Linked DNA regions of Homo sapiens: region 1 is linked to region 2. The links come from fine-mapping of genetic effects on gene expression. A gene starts in region 2. The other region holds a variant in brackets. All regions are shown on one strand. Distances are between the middles of the regions. Region 1 has its middle 65 kb from the start of GALNT15. Region 2 holds the start of GALNT15 (polypeptide N-acetylgalactosaminyltransferase 15).

Evidence for each region.
Region 1: its variant is fine-mapped to the expression of GALNT15 in spleen (GTEx, PIP 0.97).

The regions. Positions count from the first base shown.
Region 1 is chr3:16,108,647-16,111,561 of GRCh38, forward strand. No RefSeq gene overlaps it. Among named protein-coding and RNA genes, the nearest start is that of GALNT15, 65 kb to the right of the region's middle. The variant A/G (reference allele first, on the strand shown) is at 1,280.
Region 2 is chr3:16,172,992-16,175,906 of GRCh38, forward strand. It overlaps GALNT15 (polypeptide N-acetylgalactosaminyltransferase 15), which reads left to right and starts at 1,689. Exons shown (of 10, transcript NM_054110.5): 1 at 1,689-2,699. The coding sequence starts at 2,161.

The sequences.
Region 1 (2,915 bases), 64 kb before region 2:
GGTGTAATTCTGGAGTGGGAATTTCATATATGAATAAATATTTATTCCAAACTCAATTTTCAAATACTCCCATTCTGTAGAGTGAGTGAGTACACAAGGAGTTCTAAGTATCAAAGTTAGGGTTAAGTTCTGAGGATGGAGGGCAGTGGTATGATTCAGGAAAATGGTATAACCACTAGCTTTGGGACTAGACATTGCTGAGGGACTATAATATGAAAAATAGTTCAAGACAGCAATACCTGGACACTGTTACAACTTTCCTGGAAGGCAGTTTGGCAATGTGTATTAAAGTCATTAACAATAATCACATCTTTTAACTCAATAATTTCACTTTATTGGAATCTAGAACAAGGAAATAATCCTAATGAGGTTCCCTACATCATACCTACCCCGGTCTCTTTGCTTCCACTTCTCTGTGATGCTAAGTTGAGCTGTTCTAGGCTAATTTGACAGCACATGTTACCACAGTAGACTGAAGACGAACAGTAAGAGGGCCTCAGGAAGGTGATAGGAAGAAAATCCATTTCTTATTTGAATCCACATTTTGTTTTCTTGGGAAAACATGATTGTTTGCTGTGATGAAGTGTGCTTTCCATCAGGTAGCTCAGAGGAACCTGGCTGGAACTCTTATCACTGGAAAGGCTGAACTAGACTGTGAACATTCTCTTCTGCAGGATTACAAGACCAGAACCCTCCCAACCTCACTTTGGGATCTTTGATTCCTGGGCCATAGCAACTTCTATTAATATCTGACAAATCTGAGGCAGCAGGGTCTGGAAGACACAAGAAGAGACTGAGGGCTGGGTACGTGTAACAGACAGGATGCCTTTCTTTTCCAAGCCACCTCCCCAGTCATGCTGCTTGATGGCTCCAGGGGCTTTCCATTGTCTTCTGTGCAGCTTCCTCACATCTTAAATGGAATATTTATGTGGCCAGATAGTTTCCTACCTCACCCTCTCTGTTTTTCCTCAACTTCCTGGAAAAGTGTGGGAAGTTCTTGCCACTTACTTTAGGTCCATATACAACATTGCAGTTTATCACAAGCTTCAAGGAGATTTGGAGCTTTCGAGTCTCTCCTTCCATGTCACTTTCTATTCCCTGCCTGGGATTCCCTCCAGTAGGATGACATAACATTAGAGATTGGCATTGACTGGGGTGAGTGTTGAATTAAAGACACACAGGTAGACACATCTGGGAGACCAAGAAACCTTAGCTCAGGAGACACAAAGAATGAAAAAGAACTCTTGTTGACTCAAGAAGGAGGAACTCTTAACACATT[A/G]GGAAGGGCATCTTTCCCCACCAGTTCCCAAAGAAGAAGGTATGTGGAAGACACTGGACGTCTGTGCACTGGACAGAGCCTCCAAAGCAGCCCACTCACCCTCCGTACAGCATTCTCCAGAGTCATCTATGTGGTAAAGCAGCCAGCATTTAGGCCATCACAAAGCTGTGCTGGTCAGGACTGCACACCCCCACAAAGGTCGCAGGCTTCTGCTGGAAAGTGACAGGCTTCCTTCCTTCCCTGCCCTGGCCAGCTTCCCATCTGCCACAGAACCCACAACCTGGGATATACACAACATCCCCAGGATTTCCCCCTAGGATGTTCTACCCCACAGATTTAACACATATATATCCTCTGAAGGACTGCCAGTGAGTGCTGAAAAATAGGGTTTGAAGAAATGCATTGTGGAGCTGCAATAAATTGCCTCCACAATTGGAGACTGATTCAGGAAAAGAGAAGACACTCAGAAAAGAACTAGTGTAAATTAATATAAGTGGAGGACAGTGTCCTCTTCAGAAGCCGTCAGAAGGATGTAGGGTGTAGCCTTACCAATTTAGCAACTTTTAGTTGGAAAGAATAAAGTGTGTGAAAGTGCCTGAGTAGTGTCTGGCACATCATAGGTGCTCAATAAATGCTAGCACTTTGGATCTCTTATTCTAGTCCAAAATGCATCTGAGGTGTAAATTATTTTGGGCTTGTCTGATAGGATCTTCTTTTGTTATAATGAACATAAATGTATTTCCCTGCAGCTTCCTCTTATTATATCTATTTCTGGAGCTTTGACAGAATAAACCTTATCTCCTTTCACCATGACACACTTTAAAATATTTGAAGGCAGAAGTTTTGTTTCCCAAATGTTCTCTTCAAGACAAAATTCCTCAAGGCCTTCAACCATTCTGCTTATGACCTGCTTTTGAGGGCTTCATCAGCTTATTGACTCCTGAATACACTTGTGTTTGTCACTGTTCTCCTGAAAGGTGACCATGAATTGGCCACTATCCTGGAGGAAAGGGAGAGTTAAACAGCATAGACAAAGCAGGCCTACCACATTTTCTCATCGTCATTCATGCAAGCTGGTATCAAATTAACTTCCTTGTCTAGTTTTTCAGAAACAATGTTACTATGATAATTTGCGCTATCTTACTATCTATGAAAATCTCTGCAGATTTTTAAACTATTTTTTTGCTATCCATAAGTGGAGATTGCATATTGTTCACCAAAAGCTGCTCTCCCTTCTTCCATAGTAGTTGGATACATGGCTGGCCAGCTAGAAATTACATTTCCCAGCCTTCCTTGCAGCCAGATGTGGTCATATGACTACACTCTTGCTGGTTGAACATAAGTGAAAATGACACATGAAATTTCAAGTTTAGTCCTTTAAATATAGCCTGTGTACTCCTCCACGTGCTTTTCCTTTTTCAAAGGGTATAACCTGAACAGGCCTCTAACCAGGCTCCAAACACACAGATGAAGACAATATACTAGGGGTTGGTAGAACCACAAGATAAAGGAGATTAAAGCTCTGACTGGTCACTGGAGTGGAGCATTGGCCAACCAGGATGTTCCACACTGAGATTTGTATTAATCAGCTAATGCTATAATAAGTTTGTGTAACAAAAACTTCAAATCTCAATGA
Region 2 (2,915 bases):
CCCCCCTCCACTCTTGGTTGCAGACAGCATGGCTGCTTTACAGCCATCAGAAGAAACACTGCTCATGGTGATGGTCAGCTATCCTTCAACCTGTTCAAGCCAGAAGCCTGAAAACTGAGCATGCTGGATTCTCTTCTCCCTTCTACCTACCTCACTCCCTCAGTGATCTCAGGTCTCACGGCTTCAAACACTATCTGAGTGCTGCTGGAGTCCAGCTTTGTATATGCAGGCCAGACCTCCCCCTGACCTTCAGCTATCCTACAACTGCTGCCTTCACTTCATCTCCTCTTAGCTGTCTAGAGGACATCTCGAATGTCACATGTTCCAAATCAAGCCACTGGCATGCATTCATCTCCTTCCACCTTCTCTCCTTCCCCATCTTGGTTAATGGCAAGTCTATTCTTCCAACTACTCAGAACAAAAATTTGAACTCATCTTGACTCTTCTCTTCCTCTCACATTAGTCATTAATTCATCAGCAAATCCTATAGGTTCTTCCTTAAAGTATATCCACAAGCTGACCCCTGTCACCACCGATGCCACTTAGTGCAAGCCAAGAACCTCTTGGTTGGTCTCCCTGCTCCTGCTTTTTGCCCCCCACTGATTAGTCTCAACCCAGCAGCCAGAATGATCCAGTTAAAACCCAAGTCAGATTGTGTCTCTCCTCTAAGGGCTCCCCTCTCACTCAGAGGAAAAGCCAAAGTTCCTTCAATGCAACCAGGGGGTGTCCTGCATGGTCCTCCTGCCCCCCGCCCCCTTGCCTCTCTTATTCCACTTCCCATCAGGCTCCACCCTGCTCTCTTTGCTTCAGCCATGCCGGCTGTTCCTCAGACATGCCAGCATACTCTTGCCTTGGAACCTTCACATTTATCATTCTGTCTGCCCCGAACACTCAACCTCAAATAGCTGTGCAGCCCTCTCCTTTACACAAATGGTAACTCTTCCATGAAACCTTTCTCCACCACTCAATGTCCATTTCCAAGCCCAGCCCATGCTCCCCAGCCCCATCCCTGCTCTGCTTTTTTGCCTTCATCCTCATCACTATCTGACCCAGTGGATAGTTTTAATTGTATCTGTCACTAGAATGCAAGCTCCATGAGACACACATTTTTGTCTGTGTTATTCATTGCTCTACTTCCAGTTCCCAGAACAATTTTGGCACATAGCATGTGTTCATTAATTATGTGTTGGTTAAATGAAGGAAGCTTTATGAGGGAAAGAGCATGCCACTCCTCTTCCAGCGTCCCCCTTGGTGGCCAGGGCAGAGCAGGCATTCAGCTGCTCTTGTGGGAGAAGAAGGGACTTGCAAGATCATCTCCCTTAGCTCCCTCATTTTCAGGAGGCCAGGGACAGTGGTCCCCAGGAAGGGAAGGAGAGTCCAACCTAGTTTGCCTGATCCCCCATGGGAGGCTGAGGTTGCAAACAGACAGCTGCAGCTCCTTGCAGCTATGCCACACACACAGCCTTTCTGAATCAGAGGGTATTAGTCTTTCCTTCTGAACTCTTGGGATATTCCTGTTTTGATTTGGCTCTAGCAGTGACCACACCGAGTTGTGCAAAGCCTGGGAACAGTGAGGGCATTAGGACCAGGAGTGACGCGCACGCTTGGCTCTGGGTTGTGTCTGGCAGAGGGCTCTCGGCTGAGTGGAGCTATGTGTGAAAGGAAACCAGGCACTGCCTGCCGGCTTTACATCTGTTGATCTGACCTGACTGGAAGCGTCCAAAGAGGGACGGCTGTCAGCCCTGCTTGACTGAGAACCCACCAGCTCATCCCAGACACCTCATAGCAACCTATTTATACAAAGGGGGAAAGAAACACCTGAGCAGAATGGAATCATTATTTTTTTCCCAAGGAGAAAACCGGGGTAAAGGGAGGGAAGCAATTCAATTTGAAGTCCCTGTGAATGGGCTTTCAGAAGGCAATTAAAGAAATCCACTCAGAGAGGACTTGGGGTGAAACTTGGGTCCTGTGGTTTTCTGATTGTAAGTGGAAGCAGGTCTTGCACACGCTGTTGGCAAATGTCAGGACCAGGTTAAGTGACTGGCAGAAAAACTTCCAGGTGGAACAAGCAACCCAGGTTCTGCTGCAAGCTTGAAGGAGCCTGGAGCGGGAGAAAGCTAACTTGAACATGACCTGTTGCATTTGGCAAGTTCTAGCAACATGCTCCTAAGGAAGCGATACAGGCACAGACCATGCAGACTCCAGTTCCTCCTGCTGCTCCTGATGCTGGGATGCGTCCTGATGATGGTGGCGATGTTGCACCCTCCCCACCACACCCTGCACCAGACTGTCACAGCCCAAGCCAGCAAGCACAGCCCTGAAGCCAGGTACCGCCTGGACTTTGGGGAATCCCAGGATTGGGTACTGGAAGCTGAGGATGAGGGTGAAGAGTACAGCCCTCTGGAGGGCCTGCCACCCTTTATCTCACTGCGGGAGGATCAGCTGCTGGTGGCCGTGGCCTTACCCCAGGCCAGAAGGAACCAGAGCCAGGGCAGGAGAGGTGGGAGCTACCGCCTCATCAAGCAGCCAAGGAGGCAGGATAAGGAAGCCCCAAAGAGGGACTGGGGGGCTGATGAGGACGGGGAGGTGTCTGAAGAAGAGGAGTTGACCCCGTTCAGCCTGGACCCACGTGGCCTCCAGGAGGCACTCAGTGCCCGCATCCCCCTCCAGAGGGCTCTGCCCGAGGTGCGGCACCCACTGTAAGTAAGGCCCTTGTTTTCCCTTCCCTGATCCCAGGGCATGATCGGGTGGTAGCAAACTCGGGAATGCAAACTTTCCGTAGCCTGCCTCTCCTGACTTAGAGCAAGTGCTTTTCAAGATGCAGTACCTGGGCCAGCAGCGTCAGCAGCCCCTGGGCACTGGTGGGTTCTCAGAAATGCAGATTCTCAGACCCCATCCCAGACCTGCCAAACAAG